Linked DNA regions of Homo sapiens: region 2 is linked to region 1. Evidence: fine-mapped expression QTL. Tissue or cell type: whole blood. Region 1 holds a variant in brackets; the other region holds the start of a gene. All regions are shown on one strand. Distances are between the middles of the regions.

Evidence for each region. PIP is the estimated chance that this variant, and not a neighbour inherited with it, causes the effect.
Region 2: it holds the start of TNK2, and the variant in region 1 is fine-mapped to the expression of TNK2 in whole blood (TOPMed, PIP above 0.99).

Annotation. Positions count from the first base shown.
Region 1 is chr3:195,858,247-195,866,422 of GRCh38, reverse strand. TNK2 (tyrosine kinase non receptor 2) reads left to right here. Exons shown (of 16, transcript NM_001382273.1): 16 at 2,236-3,059. The coding sequence ends at 2,242. LINC01983 (long intergenic non-protein coding RNA 1983) reads left to right here and starts at 6,019. Exons shown (of 2, transcript NR_134939.1): 1 at 6,019-6,150. RefSeq lists enhancers at 5,585-6,107, 6,108-6,632. The variant T/C (reference allele first, on the strand shown) is at 3,524.
Region 2 is chr3:195,904,381-195,912,550 of GRCh38, reverse strand. TNK2 (tyrosine kinase non receptor 2) reads left to right here and starts at 4,000. Exons shown (of 16, transcript NM_001382273.1): 1 at 4,000-4,066. It overlaps TNK2-AS1 (TNK2 antisense RNA 1), which reads right to left and starts at 4,475. Exons shown (of 2, transcript NR_145450.1): 1 at 3,773-4,475; 2 at 1-2,686. RefSeq lists enhancers at 2,417-2,466, 5,457-5,686, 5,737-5,786 and silencers at 2,597-3,246, 3,297-3,486, 3,537-3,786.

The DNA of each region.
Region 1 (8,176 bases):
TCGAGACCAGCCTGGCCAACATGGCGAGACCAGGTCTCTACTAAAAATACAAAAATTAACCGGGTATGGTGGTGGGCACCTGTAATCCCACCTGCTGGGGAGGCTGAGGCAGGAGAATCGCTTCAACCTGGGAGGCGGAGGTTGCTGTGAGCTGAGATTGCACCACTGCACTCCATCCTGGGCGACAGAGGGAGACTGTCTCCAAAAAAAAAAATTTTCTCTAAAAAGAAAATATATTGTCTTTCCTGTAAAAGGTTTATATTATAGTTTAACAAAATATATAGACATTTAAAATATATACATATATAAACACACTTTATATATTATGTAAATATATATATGAGAGCGCTGTCAAGTCAAAAAGAAGTGAACTGAGGTCACATGGCTGGAGCCAGCACCATGGCAGGAGGCACTGGCGGGAGGAGGGGCTGACACGGGCCAGGCCCTGGAGATACCTGCTGCCCTTGTCCCAGCAGCGTGGCCCTGTGCACGGTGCGGAGTTTCTCCACATATAAAGCGTGTAGATAATAGTGCTCACCCCGTGGAAGGGACTGGCGCGATGGATGGGGGACATGTCTGTCTTATTGCGCCCAGCACGCCTGGCGCCAGGATGCAGGCACTCCGTGTCACCTGTCTGTCCCATACTGTCTCGGGTGGTTCTTACTGATTTGCAGCTGGGATGCAGGCACTCCCTGTCACCTGTCTGTCCCATACTGTCTCGGGTCGTTCTTAACTGATTTGCACCTGGGACGCAGGCACTCTGTGTCACCTGTCTGTCATTGTCTCGGGTGGTTCTTACTGATTTGCACCTGGGACGCAGGCATTCGCTGTCACCTGTCTGTCACTGTCTCGGGTGGTTCTTACTGATTTGCACCTGGGATGCAGGCACTCCGTGTCACTTGTCTGTCCCAGTCTCGGGTGGTTCTTACTGATTTGCACCTGGGATGCAGGCACTCGGTGTCACCTGTCTGTCCCATCCTGTCTCGGGTCATTCTTAACTGATTTGCACCCGGGACGCAGGCACTCTGTGTCACCTGTCTGTCACTGTCTCGGGTGGTTCTTACTGATTTGCACCCGGGACGCAGGCACTCGCTGTCACCTGTCTGTCACTGTCTCGGGTGGTTCTTACTGATTTGCACCTGGGACGCAGGCACTCGCTGTCACCTGTCTGTCACTGTCTCGGGTGGTTCTTACTGATTTGCATCTGGGACGCAGGCACTCGCTGTCACCTGTCTGTCACTGTCTCGGGTGGTTCTTACTGATTTGCATCTGGGACGCAGGCACTCGCTGTCACCTGTCTGTCACTGTCTCGGGTGGTTCTTACTGATTTGCACCTGGGACGCAGGCACTCCGTGTCACCTGTCTGTCACTGTCTCGGGTGGTTCTTACTGATTTGCACCCGGGACGCAGGCACTCGCTGTCACCTGTCTGTCGCTGTCTCGGGTGGTTCTTACTGATTTGCATCTGGGATGCAGGCACTCCGTGTCACCTGTCTGTCGCTGTCTCGGGTGGTTCTTACTGATTTGCACCCGGGACGCAGGCACTTGCTGTCACCTGTCTGTCACTGTCTCGGGTGTTTCTTACTGATTTGCACCTGGGACGCAGGCACTCCGTGTCACCTGTCTGTCACTGTCTCGGGTGGTTCTTACTGATTTGCACCTGGGACGCAGGCACTCGCTGTCACCTGTCTGTCACTGTCTCGGGTGGTTCTTACTGATTTGCATCTGGGACGCAGGCACTCGCTGTCACCTGTCTGTCACTGTCTCAGGTGGTTCTTACTGATTTGCATCTGGGATGCAGGCACTCCGTGTCACCTGTCTGTCACTGTCTCGGGTGGTTCTTACTGATTTGCATCTAGGATGCAGGCACTCCGTGTCACCTGTCTGTCGCTGTCTGGGGTGGTTCTTACTGATTTGCAGCTGGGATGCAGGCACTCCGTGTCACCTGTCTGTCGCTGTCTCGGGTGGTTCTTACTGATTTGCATCCACATAGGCTTTGGGCTCTATCCCACCTGTCGTCTTCGGATTCTCTAATACGCAGGAGTGCTCTTCTGTTAGTTTACTCATAGTTTATTAAAGTACAGAGAAAAGACATCCAGGATGATAAATTTTACAGTCCTTGCCGGGGACTGCCAGCTTCCAGTGGTGTTGCCTGGCACCAGTGTGACCCCCGGTGCCTGCCCCGCTGAACCTTCTGTAAACTGTTTAACTGTGCTGGTGGTTTCCCATTCTCTAGGCGCTGAGATGCGTCTGGAGAGCCAGAGGGCCTGCCTGAAGGAATCACCTGAGCCTGTCCGTCCACCAGGAGTGGGGAGATGCCCCCATCCAGTCCTGGAGGACCCGCTGCTCCTGCTGCTCCCGGGGATGGAGCAAGGCCAAGGCTGCGGGAGGCTGGGAGCCCTGCCCTGCCCATCCCTCCTGCACCAGCGCTGTCCCTGCACACTTTGGTTCAGTCCCGGTGCCCCTGCCAAGATGTGGAAGGGGCCGGGTGAAGACAGGCTTGAGGGCTGCCCCAGCAGGCTCTGGGTATGACCTGCCTCTGGCCCTGGTCCTGGGCGGGGCCTGTGGGTGGAGTAGTACCCCCAGGCCCTGCCCTGGGTGACAGACTGGGAGGAAACCAGGCTGGACCTGGGCAGGCGGGATGTGTTGGCCACAGGGAGAGGCGGACCGGCACCCGGTGGGACCTCCTAGGACTGGGCCTTCTTCCAGGGGGCCCCTGGCAGCAGCTGGGGTGTCGGGCAGAATGTGACTTGTGGCCTTACCATGGACTTGAATGGGACTTGGCTGGCCTCAGGATCTTGTGCCTGGAAATAGCCTGAGGTGGCTCAGGAAGCGGAGAAAGGGTGCCAGACCATTCTCTGGCGGGGACCAGGGCCCAAGGCCCCAGGGCTGGAAGGAGACCAAGGGGCAGCCGCCCTGGAGGGACATCAGTGCTTCCTCTTCCACCCAATTCCCCCACGCGGTTCCATGTTTTCCCACCAGCCTGTTGGCGAAGTTGCTGCTCCGGCATTCAGTACCTGCTTCTTCCAGAGAAATAAAGTTAGTTTCTATTTTATGTTACTTACTTGTGCCTGCCTGTTTCTTTGCCTGTTAGTCAGCAAGCTCCAGGCCCCAAGCGAGGCTCCCCAGGCCACCAGCATCTGCTCCGGGCAGCAGGCCTTGTAGCACCACCTGGAGGCAGCGGGAGGGCGCGCAGGCCTGGACACCGGGAGGCCTCTTCCCTTACACGGCCGGCAGCGGGGCCAGAGTCCCCGCCGGTCTGGTCAGTGACTTTCACACTGCCTGGATTTCACTTGCCGCGTGGACTTCTGTAAGGCAGGATATATACTGCAGGAGAGAGTACAGCAACCCAGTTAAATAGAACCAAGCCAGAAATGTTAGCAACAAGGAACCCTTCAATATGTTAGGTATTTTAATTGCTTTTCTGAATAACTCATGTTCATACGGTTCAAAATTGAAAAGGCACTGAGGAGTGTACAGTGAAATGACTGGGTATCACCCACCGCGGCCGTCCACTTCCCCAG[T/C]GCAGAGACGCCTGTATCACCAGTTTCTTGTGTAGTGCTTGTTTTTGTTTTTACTTAATAATATTTTGAAGAATTCCATAGCAATACTGAACGTGCTTCCCCATTCTTTTTTTTTTTTTTTTTTTTGAGACAGTTTTGCTCTTGTTGCCCAGGCTGGAGTACAGTGGTGCGATCTCTGCTCACTGCAACCTCTGCCTCCCAGGTTCAAGCAATTCTCCTGCCTCAGCCTCTGAGTAGCTGGGATTACAGGCACGTGCCACCACACCCAGCCAATTTTTGTATTTTTAGTAGAGATGGGGTTTCTCCATGTTGGCCAGGCTGGTCTCAAACTCTTGACCTCAGGTGATCCGCCTGCCTCAGCCTCCCGAAGTGCTAGGATTATAGGCATGAGCCACCGCGCCCGGCTGGGCTTCCCCATTCTTTCGGGTTGCGTGGATGCACGGGTGTACCATAACCTACTTAACTGGGTTCCTTTTGATGAAGGGCAATTTTAGTTGCATCCAGTCCTTCGCAATTACAACCATTGCCTCAGTAAATTGTGTATGTGGGCTGTTTTTCACTCGCACGTCAATCTGAAGATGAGTTCCCAGCAGTGGGACTGCTAGGTCAAAGGGCGTGTGCCATGGCGGTGGGTGGTGCTGAACCTGCTCTCAGCGGAGGGACATTCTCAGTTGTCACACCACCTGTGCAAGGGAGCTTTCCATGTGTTAAGGAGTTTTCTGATCTTTGGCAGACTGACTGGTAGAAAATAGTGTTTCTATAGTTTTAATATGCATTTCTCTTACGAATAAACTCAAAAATAAGTTGAGCCATTTGTATTTCCTTTTTAATGAGTTGCCTATTAATATCCTTGGCCCATTACAAAATGTTAGATTATTCATCGGTTTCTTACTGCTTTCCAGGAAATTACTGGATCAATCAAGGAAACTAGCTCTTTGAGCTTCACATATGATCATGTGAACTTTAGGAAAAGAGGTAAATCATAAGAAAGTAAGCTTAATGACTCGGGTTTATTGAAAACAAAACAGAGGCCATTCAGGGTGAGTCTGGGCCACGTGTGTGTCTGGCTGTAGGCTGGCCTTCGTGGGTAGGCCCCGAGGCTCAGAAGTTCTGAGGCCTGGGAGCTTTGCATATGCCGTTTGCAAAGGCAGGAATTCTATTATTTTAACTGTGATTTAAAATACCTAGTCAAATATATCACAAAAGGGAACAAGTTTTTTTTTTTTTTTTTTTTTTTGAGACGGCATCTTGCTCTGTTGCCCAGGCTAGAGTGCAGTGGTGCAATCTCGGCTCACTGCAACCTCTGCCTCCTGGGTTCAAGTGATTCTCCTGCCTCCGCCACCTGAGTAGCTGGGACCACAGGCGCACACCACCACACCCGACTAATTTTTGGATTTTTAATTTTTGGATTTTTAGTAGAGATGGGGTTTCACCATACTGGTCAGCCTGGTCTTGAACTCCTGACCTCATGATCCGCCCGCCTCGGCCTCCCAAAGTGCTGGGATTACAGGCGTGAGCCACCGCATCCAGCCAGAACAAGTTCATATTAAGTGAGTGTTGAGCATTGCTGTTAGACCTGGATTTCATTCCTAGCTCTGTTTCGTCTTAGAAATGTTATTTCACCTTTCTGAGTCTGTAAACTGATGGAGTAATTCCTGCCTTATAGAAGGGTTGTGAGGACTGACTGAGGTTGTGAAGGTGAAACATTTTGCTTAGAGTATGGGCCACAGTCAGTTCCCACCAAACAGTAGTTATTATAAATGTTATTTCCCCGTGTTCCTGCCTGTTTCTATTAATCAATAGCTCACATTATACACTGACCACACTCTGCGCATAGAATTGTGTTTTACTTTTCTCATTTTCCTTCTGTTTCAGAAAGTTTATTCTTTTGCTCACAATTATCCTATTTATAGATCATAGGTGTTTTTACTTCATTTTAAAAAACACATCAATTTTTTGTAAGCAATCCAGATGTGTGTATGCTTTACAAGCATTTAAAAATCTGTTTCAGAGCCAACACATCCAGAAAGATTTTTGCAGGGGGCAGAGGATGTCAAAGCAGCTCGAGGTTTCTCAGGGGAGCAGGGAACCCAGTGTACTTTTCCTGCCAGACACACAGTTCCCTAAACCCTGGGTTTCCTGCTATGTTTTTCTTGCTTCTAATCGGCCTGCCAGCTTTTCCAGCATCTCCTGGGTTTACTGAAAAGATCTTAAGTTGGGAAGTTGAAACGCTGACCCAGGTGTGTTTGCCAACAGGCAGAATCAACAACAGGCAGAATCAACAACAGGGAGAATCAACAACGGAGAATCAACAACAGGGAGAATCGACAACAGGGAGAATCAACAACAGGCAGAATCAACAACAGGCAGAATCAACAACAGGGAGAATCAACTCAGTGGGGAGGTGTCGGGTGCTTTTTGTGTGTGGAGCCCTGATGAGGAAACACAAGCCAAGTAGAAACAGTCCGTGCCCCAGATGGGTCCACAGCCTTTGGGGGACTGTGACAGCATCACGGCAGGACGGGTGCTCTGTAATCGTTACGCACCAGGTGTCTTGGGAGCAGAGGAGGTGGCTCCCCACAAGGTCACGTTGTGCTGATGTGATGGGTGAGAACGGTGAACGCCAGGTAGGGACGAAAGCGCTGCAGGTGGAGGGCCCTGCAGCCGAGGCGGCGGGCACGAGCCGGCTTGTCCCAGGCACTGAAGTTGGCAAGGCCAGAGCGCATCCTTTTGTTGTTTTGGGGGTGGGTTAGAGGCGGCTCTCGTGATCCTGGCGCGTGAGGCAGGCCTGGATCATGAGGCTGCTGGTGTGGAATGCTGAGTTCTTTTGACTTTGTAGACAAAGGAAGACATCAGGAATAGCCAGAGGGGTAGTGGGGTTGCATCTGGGTGCTCAGGATGGGGCTGCTTGAAAGCGGCTGGCGGCTCCACTGCAGCCACAAAAGGAGGAAAGGCCTAGTGCGTCTCTCCCTGCGGACAAAAGGTTTCCTTAATTGGAAGCAAGTTCATTTGTACAGAAACTGCATTTGGAGGTTGGAGGAACCTCCAACTGCTGGAGTCTTTGTCGAGAGCAAGGGTTCTTGAAGGCCAGTCCAGGGCCGCTGCCGGTCTAGAGTTAAGTTTTCAGCCACCTGAGGTGAAATGATAAGAACTGCAGGACCGAGCTTTTCTTAAAATGAAAGAGATTCCGTTTCAAGGACGGTCTTTATTTGGATGTGTCTTCCTGAGTTCTTGGTACTGAAATGGCTGTTGTTGCGTAGTGGTGGTGGTGGTGTTAGGCGGTAACTGTGTCCCCCGTGCCCTGTCAGGATGCCCCTCACCAATGACTGCTATTTTAATGATCCCCGAAGTCCATCTTGAGGACCCGGGGCCAGAGAGCTTTCGTGTTAGGCAGCACCACCTGTTGGCAAAATGTGGCATTGCAGGCCCTCTGGCTAAATTTCAGAGTGGGAGGGATGAGATTGTGTATTCATTGCCCAATAAATCAATTAATTCCAAATCTGCTGGCTCAAGCCCATGGGTGCTTAAAGGGAGTCAGCCCAGGGAAGCTGGGAGGGGAAGGAACTGGGTCGCCCGCCATCTGGAGCCAAACGGGGACCAGCCAGTATCTAAGGTCAGGAAAGGAGACGGGTGGAGGGCTCTGAAAAACACCACGCCTGCACCTGGGCCAGAAACCTGCGGCTCTGGGCTAGCTGGAGGGAAGCTGAGGGCTGGGAGAGCGGGCAGTCACTCTCCAGCAGAAGTCCTCGCATCACGTCACTCCATTTGGGAAGCCTCAGTTCCACTGTATTAAAAAAAAATGTTTTTATGATTGTTATACATGCTCTTTGTTGACTTGGACCATTCAGAAGAGCGCAGTGAGAAAATTAAAGACCCAGAAAGCCACTTAAAATTTTGATATATTCCACTTTTTTTTGTGCACATATATGTGTATTACGGTTTTATAAAATAAGGTCATCCAGCATGCAGGGTTTCCTTAAGGTTTATTTTTATCTTTATTTTATTTGGTTTTTTGTTTGAATCAAGGTCACTCTCTGTCACCCAGGATGAGTGCCGTGGCATGATCATGGTTCAGGGTGGCCTGGAATTCCTGGACTCAAGCGATCGTCCCACTTAAGCCTCCCAAGCAGCTGGGGTGACCGGCGTGCCCCACCACACCTGGCTAATTTTTTTATTTTTTTATTTTTAGTAGAGACGAGGTCTCACTATGTTGCCCAGGCTGGTCTCGAATTTCTGGACTCAAACAATCCTCCCGCCTCAGCCTCCCAAAGTGCGGGGATTATAGGCATGAGCCACTGTGCCTGGCCAGTTTTCTGTATCTTTAAATTCATCTTCTCAAAGAATATTTAAACACTACCTAGTTTTTATTCTGTGGATAAACTCCAGTTAACACATTTTGTTAATGTTTTTTATCTTGTAACTGTTCATTTATTTAGAGACAAGGTGTCCCTCTGTCTCCCAGGCTGGAGTGCAGTGGCTCCAGCTCAGCTCGGCTCACCGTACCTTGATCCTCCAGGCCCAAGGGATCCTCCCACCTCAGCCTCCCAAGCTGTGAGAACTACAGGCAGGCGCCACTATACCCACATAGTTTTGTTCTTTTTTTTCTTTTTTCTGTAGAGATGAGATCTCACTATGATGCCCAGGCTGGTCTCG
Region 2 (8,170 bases), 46 kb before region 1:
GGATTGCTTGAGGCCAGGAGTTCAAAACCAGCCTGGGTAACAGGACGAAACCCCGTCTCTACTAAAAATACAAAAAATTAGCTGGGCGTGGTGGCGGGTGCCTGTAATCCCAACTATTAGGGAGGCTGAGGCCGGAGAATCGCTTGAACCCGGGAGGCAGAGGTTGCGGTGAGCCGAGATTGCACCACTGCACTCCAGCCTGGGCAACAAGCACGAAACTCCATCTCAAAAAAATAAAAAAATAAAAACAAACAAACTAGAAGCCCAATCCCTCAGCAGCACCCACCCACTCTTGGCTTAGCAGCTGCCTGCAGGTGTGAGCCAGGCGGCCCATTCCCCAGCAATGGCCTTCCTTGCCCTCTTGCTTACCTCACAGTGCAAAACAGCTCATGAAGGAGACTCTTAAGGGCACCACCCAAAGCCTCCCTCTGGCAGCCTGGCCCACCTCCACTCCCAGCTAGACCCGACAAGCCCTTCTCCTTGCCGAGTCATTCTGCTGTGGGCAGCTCTCCTAAAGTTCCAGATGTAGGAGGAGACTGGCTCAGGCACGTTAATTAGAGGGTTGGGGTTATCCCTGTGGCCACCTCCCAAATCTCCTGAGACTTATGTTTTTAGTCTGGGGCTCCTTCCTCATGTCAGCTCCCTAGTGGCAGAGCAGTCTCCCTCGGTGTCTCTCTGGCCACCATGATCAGTGTCACGGACACATCCCAGCATAGCCCCAGTTCTCAACCGCATGGCAGGGACCGTCCAGGAGTTGGTGAGGAACAGGGTGGGAGGGAGGAAGGGAGCAGGAGACCTCACTCTTTCCTTTGAACCTAAAGCTCCAGATAATCCTACACTAGAGGTGCATATGGGGCATGGCTCTGGCTTCTTGAGGGAAACTGGAGAGATGGGGGGCTGGGGAAATGGGGGGCTGTGCTGCCCTAGGAGCAGGACCAACCAGCGTGGAGGCGCTTTGACCTCTAGCTTTGTTTGATTTGGAGCTTGATTTACTGGAGGGGAAGTTTGCTCTAAATCAGTTGTTTGCATCTATTGACCAATAAAATCTAGTTAGTCCTGATGCTTCCTGAAGCAGGGCCCCTGGATTTGGCGTTGCTTTTTTGTGCCTCAGATTTTTTTTTTTTTTGAGGCAAGGTCTGGCTCTATTGCCCAGGCAGGAGTGCAGTGGTGTGGTCTCTACTCAGTGCAACCTCCACCTCCCAGGCTCAAGCGATCCTCCCCCCTCGGCCTCCCGAGTAGCTGGGATTACAGGTGCGTGCCACCATGCTCTGCTAATTTTTCTATTTTTTTTGTAGAGACAGGGTTTTGCCGTGTTGCCCAGGCTGGTCCTGAACTTGGGAGCTCAAATGATTTGCCCTCCTCAGCCTCCAAAGTGCTGTGATTACAGGCATGAGTCACCACACTCGGTCTGTGCCTTAGACTTTAGAGTCGGAAAGCTGGATTTGAATCCTGGCTTCACTACTACCAGCTGTATGGCACTGAACAAGTCACTTGGCCATGTAGAACCTCAGTTCTGCCACGTGTAAAATGGGGATATTATGTGTCTCCTTGGGTTGTCATGGGGTTGGATGAGAAGAATGCGAAGTGCAGGGCCTTGCACAGTTGGGCTCTGTGAGTCTTAGCAATGGCCATGACTGAGGCAGCGTGAGGGAGACTGGGAGAAAACCTCCTCAGTTTCCTTCTCCCAAATCTGTTGTCTTCCCCACTTTCTTTCCTGAAGCCAGGCGACAGGGGGGTGGTCCTGGCCCAGCCTCCTGGCTCCCTGGGGAAGGGCTGCCATTACTGGCAGTGTTAGATAATTTAGTAGAAAGTTGCCCTGCCCACCTCGCAGGCAAGGGACCGCCACCCAAATCCACCCAGACTGGGCCTCGTGTAGGTTTCCAGAAGCCACCCCTTTCTCATTGCCCTACTGCGCTCTGGCCAAGTCCCTGGGGCCCATTGCTGGACAGTGTGAGCGCAGAAAGAGCCAGCCCTACACAGTTTCCGATGTGTCTGATCTTGCCACCTACCGTGAACTGTTTTGTTATTACATCCATTTTCTAGATGAGGGACAGTAACAAGGGCTGAGTGGCCCTGAGCCCTTGGGCTCCACGCGCCCGCTGCCCAGGGCTGCCTCCGTTTGGGCTGGGACATGGGTCTGTGGGCTGGGAACAGGGCCTGCAGGCTGCCCCGCCGCTGGGAATCCGAGCGCTGGGTTTTCTCCTTCTGGGGTGGGGGCAGGGAGGAGACGGCTCAAGTGCAGGAATGAAGGTCCGCTTGCCTGGGGCTGTTTCTGCCCAAGTCCTCATCAGGAATCGTCAGGCCTGAGACAAACCCTCCCTCCTTCAGGAGTGCTCCGTTGGCCCCGGGGAAAGAGAGGTGATGGTCCGGGTTTCTGGGCCTTTGGGGTGCCACGGTGAGATTGGGACTAGAACCCCAGCCTCACTGGAGTGACCCCAGAAACCTTCCAGTCCAACCTCCTCACTTCAACTGAGGTTGGAACAACTGAGACCGGGTGGAAGTGACTTTTACACTCGCACAGTGCAACGGTAGCTACTCGGAATGAGAGACCTGTTCCGGCGCTCCTCCATTGCGCCCCTCGACTCGGCGGGACTTCTTCACCCAGGGCGCCACCGCTCCTCGGCACCGCAGGAAGGCGCAGGCCGGGCCCGGGGGAGTCGGGGAGAGCGGGGTAGGGCCCCGGAGGCTGGGGGAGGAGCCGGGGGAGGAGCGATGAGGCCGGGCCCTTTAAGAGGGCGGGCCGACTCCCCCCCACCCCCCACCCCGGGGCGGCGCAGGCGCAGGCGCAGGCGGGCTCGGGGCGCTCGGCAGGAGGGACGGCGGGCGGGCGCTCACCTGCGGGGGCCGGCGCGGGGCGGGCGCCCGGCGGGCCGACGTTGACGCCCGGAGGCGAGGGCGGGGAGGCGGGCGCGGGACTCGGGGGCGGCCCGGGGCGGGAGGGGAGGGCCGGGGCGGGCGGGCGGTGTGAGCGGGCGCCGAGGGCAGCACCATCTGGAGGGGTGGGAGCGCGCGGCCTCTGGGGGGCAAGCGAGTGCGCTGGGCCGAGCCGGTCGGGGGCCCCCGGCGGGTCGCGCAGGAGGAGCGCGGCGGGCTGAGCCCTGCGCTGCCGGAGCAGCAGCCGCAGCGCGTAGGGGTTCTCAGCTGGGGCCCGCAGCAGCTCCGCGGGCTGAAGCTCGGCGTGGAGGAGCGGGGCGGGGTGGGCCCGGCGGTGCAGGAGGAGGGCGGGGTGGGCCCGGGGCTGCAGGAGCGCGGCGGCCGCGGCCACGAGCCCAGCCGGGGGGTGGTGTGGGGGCCGCCGGACGGCGCGGGCTGGGGGCGCCCGCCGTGGTGGACGGGCTCGGCGGGCTGGCCTGTGGCGCAGGAGGAGGGGCTGGGGCCCCGCGGGCAGCACCAGGAGAAGGGCGGAGGCAGCCCCGCAGTGCAGGAGCGCGGCGAGGCCCGGGCCGGGGTGCAGGAGCGCGGGGAGGGGAGCCCGCGGAGGCTGCTGCAGCAGCCCGAACCGGCGTCCGAGTCCGGGGAAGGCCCCCGCGAGCGCAGGGAGGGGCCGGAAAGTTCCGGCGAACTGGGGGAGCGGCAGTGGGAGAGCGTCGGGCGGGAGGCGGTGGTCCTGGGAGCGGCCCCGGCGCCCCGAAGCCGCCCCGAGCTGGTGGGGAGGGCCCGGCCGGTGGGGCCCCGGGGGCCTGCGGGGGAGGGGCGCCTGGGGGTGCAAGAGGCGAATTGGCTGCCCGGGGTGCAGGAGGGACAGGTGGTGCGGGCTGTCCAGGAAACCTACCTGAACGGGAAGGAGCCCCAGGAGGGAGAGGGACCCGGCGAGGGGCTCAGGACCCGGAGGCGCCGGCGGAGGAGGAGGTGGTGACTGGCAGGCCCGGGCCCCACGGTACCTCCGGGGCTGAAGGGGACGCAGGATGTAGGGGCATGGGGAGTCGGGCGCAGAAGAGTGCGGGGAACCGCTGAGCTCTGGGAGCCACTGCCTGAGGGCAGGCCGCGGCCGGCGGGAACCTCTTCTGCCGTCTCAGCCTGGGCGTCGCTGAAGCTGTGTCTGCGGGGAGGCAGCGGAAGGCGGCAGGTAAGGAAGCCCAGTCCTGTTAGCTGGAGTTGGTGTGCTTGGAAGTGAGAGGCTGCAGGTCCCTGGCGAGAGCGTAGACTCCACACTGCCCTCGTTCTTTTGGCCTTTCATCCCTGGAGGGAGGAAGCAGTGCAGTTTTCAGCGGCAAGGCAGGACCTCTCCCCCGCCAGTACTGTGTATGGTAATTGGAGTGATAGGGCATCTTCTTAGAGTCTAGGCAGCAGGCGGGACGTCTGGGTGGCTGCCAGGTCTGTGCAGAGGGAAGAGAGGGGTAGCCCCAGGGAGGAGCTGCAGGACGGTCCCCCCTCCACCTGCCCCCCGATGGCAGTAGGGGTGCCTCCATGCTATATGCTCTGCATGGTGCAGTCAACACACAAGTCCTCAAAACACGTCCCACAGAAGGGAAGAGGGCAGCGTGGGATTAACAGAACCTTATCTTGTAACCCTGTTGGTCACGTGAGCTGAGATGAGTGTGACAGCTAGTGGCTTGGGTACGGCACGAGCCTGGCCCGCTTCTGCCACGCCGTCCTGTCACAGCTGATTTACCCTGAGGGCCCAGAGCCAAGGATGATTAGTGGGCGGAAGGAGGGAGAGCAACTGGTGAGCCCTCTCGTCTCTGGGTGGGACGACCCAGCGTTAGAGGGGCGGGAGAGGAGGGTGCACTTGCACCCCAGGGCTCTGGGCTGCCTCTGTGGCCCCACCCTGGGGAGGTTTGCAGATGGGCCGCTGTGGTATCATGGGCTCTGCACCTGTCAGGACAGGAGCTCCCAGCCCAGTCTAGAGGTAGGGCTTGTAGGGGCCAAGGGTGGGGGCTGTATTTGGCTTGTTGACTCCCTCGTGGCCTGAGTGCCAGACCTACTCATTCCGCCTCGTGCCCCCAGGGGGCTTGGCGGGCTGCTTGTGGGCCTTACTCTCCTAGAGCTGTTCGCCTCTTACCTGGCACTGTCAGGTGCTTGCTTCCCCTGCCCCTGGGTGGGGATGGGTGCAGGGTTGCTGCTTGCCCAGGGCCTTAGCTAGAGGACCCTCCTCTGCCCCAGCCCGAGGTGTGGCTGTGAGTCAGATGGACCCAGACCCCTGTCCCGAACCAGACTGGGTGCTCTCCTCTGGGGGCAGAGGGAGTGGTGCTGGAGGTAGCAGCTGCTGGAGGAGCCGGTTAGCCCGCTCCTCAGACAAACTCAAACCCGCCTGTCAGCTTCATCCCATGCCTGTCGCGCTGCCACCCAAACACTCATGCACCGGAAGTTCAGCTGCTGTGCCCACGGTGCCTGACGCTTCTGGAATGGCCAGAGTGGCTCTCACTGTCTGGCTTCAGTGGAGAGAACGGTCTGTTTTAAACACATACACACAATCTTCACCTACTTATTTCAGGTCGGCGTTTTTGAACTTGTGGTAGATGAATGGGAGAAAGGCCTTGGCATCACACAGATTGCTTTTGATCTGGTTATATCGCTTACAAGCTGTGTAACTTCCTTGGGCAACATAATGTCTTTAGGTTTCAGTTTCTTGGTGTCTGCGGTGGGCCAGGACTTCCCCTGCAGTGTCGTGAGTAAAGAAACCTCAGGCCCTTTGGAGCCTGGTGCCCACCTCCCCGGAGCCCCGGCAGATGTTAGGGAGGAAGGGTCAGACTGTTCCCTCTGGCCCCTGAGCCCGGGATTAGCCCCCACCTTGTGCTTCGTCTAGAAGATGCAGTGTTTCTTTTTGTTTGTTTTAAATAACAGTTTTATTGAGATATAATGACATATGGTAAACTGAGCATATTTAAAACACACAATTTAATAAGTTGTGGCCTGTGTATATACCCGTGAAACCACCCCCACCTTCAAGATAGTGAACATCCCCCTTATTCCCCTGTCCCCAGAAGTTTTCTTGTGGAACCCCTCCATCCCCCGCTCCTCTGCCATCCCCTACCCCAGGTAACAGGCTGGTCTACTTTCTGTCACTGTGTCTGAGTTTGCAGCATTTACTGTAAACGGAATCGCGTCTTTCATTCAACAGAAGTATTTTGGAGTTTGTCCAGGTGGTTGCGCGTATCAACAGTCATTGTACACGTGTGCCAAAGTCTGTTTATCCATTGACCTGTTGATGGGTTTTCAGAGAAAGCTGCTGTGAACGTGTTTGTTAGTCTTTGTGTGGATGTACACTTTTATTTATCTTAGGTAAATCCCTAGGACCGGAATGGCTGGGTCATGTGGTAGGTACACATTTAACCTTTAAGAAACTGCCAGACTGTTTTCCAAAGTGGTTGTACATTTTATATACTCATCCACTGTGTATGAGAGTTCTGGTTTGTCCATGTCTTTGATATGTCCACATCTCGATGTGGTCAGTCTCTAATTTTAGACACTCTCATGTCTGTAGTGGTATCTCATTACAATTTTAATTTGTATTTCCTTAATGACTCATGTTGTCGGGCATCTTCTCATGTGCTCATTTGCCATACGTATGTCTTTGGTGCTGTGTCTGTTCAGATCGTTTGCCCATTTTTAATTGTGTAGGGTTTTTCGTGTTGAGTTCTGAAGAGTTCTTGATATATTCTGGATATAAGCCTTTTATCAGGTATGTGATTTACAAATCTTTTTTCCAGCTTGTGGCTTTGTATTTTGATCCTCTTAACAATGTCTTCTAAAAAATTCTCATGATCAGTAGTGCAAAATGCTGTGTTTTTGAAGAGAAGTTGTAAATTTTGATTAATTTACTAATTTGTTACTTTGTGGATTGCATTTTTGGTGTCATGTCCAAGAAATCTTTGCCTGACCCAAAGTCCCAACAGTTTTCCCCTGTATTTTCTTGTAGACATTTTATAGTTTTGGGCTTTACATTGAGATCTAGGATTCGTTTGGGGTTAATTTTTGTTACGTGGTGCAAGGTATGAATCAATGTCCAGTTTTTTGCATGTAGAGATCTAATTGATCTAGTAGCACCATTTATTAAAAAGATGTATCTCTCCACTGAATTGCCTTTGAATCTTTGTCAAAAATCAATTGCTGGCTGGGCACGGTGGCTCACTCCTCTAATCCCAGTGCTTTGGGAGGCTGAGGCGGGCGGATCATGAGGTCAGGAGTTCAAGGCCAAGCTGGTGAACGTAGTGGAACCCTGTCTCTACTAAAAATACAAAAAATTAGCCAGGCGTGGTGGCGGGCACCTGTAATCCCAGCTACTCAGGAGGCTGAGTCAGGAGAATCGCATGAACCCGGGAGGCGGAGGTTGCAGTGAGCCAAGATTGCGCCACTGCATTCCAGCCCGGGCGACAGTGTGAGACTCCATCTCAAAAAGAAAAAGAAAAAAATCAATTGTTTGTGTGTGTCTAATTCTGGATTCTGTTTTGTTCCATTGATCTATTTGTCTGTCTTTATCCCAGTATCACACTATCTTGATTACTGTGGGTTTATAAACTATAGTAAGTCTTGAAATCAGGGTAAGATCTCAAACTTGGTTTTGTCTTTTCAAAATTGCTTTAGCTATTCTGGGTTCTTTGCACTTCCATATACATTTTAGAATTAGTTAGTCAATTTCTACAAAAAAGCCTGCTGGGATTTTGATTGGGATTATGATCAATTTGGGGAGAATTGATCGGTTAGCAGTATTGAGCCTTCTGACCATGAACAGTGTATATCTCTGTATTTGTCTAGGTTTTGTTTACTATCTCTCAGCAGTGTTTTGTAGTTTTTGGTATATCAGTCTTTTCCATCTTTTATTGAACATATCCTTAAATAGTACCTATTTTTATGCTATTGTAAATGATACTGGTTTTTCCTGGTAGTATTGGTTTTTTATTTTTAAAAACTTTTAATTGTGGTAAAATATACATAATATACTGCCATTGTAACCATCTGCAGTGGTGGTAAATACATTCATACTGTTGCACAGCCGTCACCAGCATCCATCTCCAGGACTTTTCTCATCTTGTGAAACTGAAACCGCACCTATTAAACAGTAACTTCCCATTCCCTCCTCTCTCAGCCCCTGAGAACCACCATTTTACCTTCTGACTCTATGAATTTGGCTCCTGTAGGTGCCTCATAGAAGTAGAATTTTACAGTGTTTGTGCTTTTGTGCCTGGCTTATTTCACCTCGGCCTAGCGTATTCAAGGTTCATTTACATTG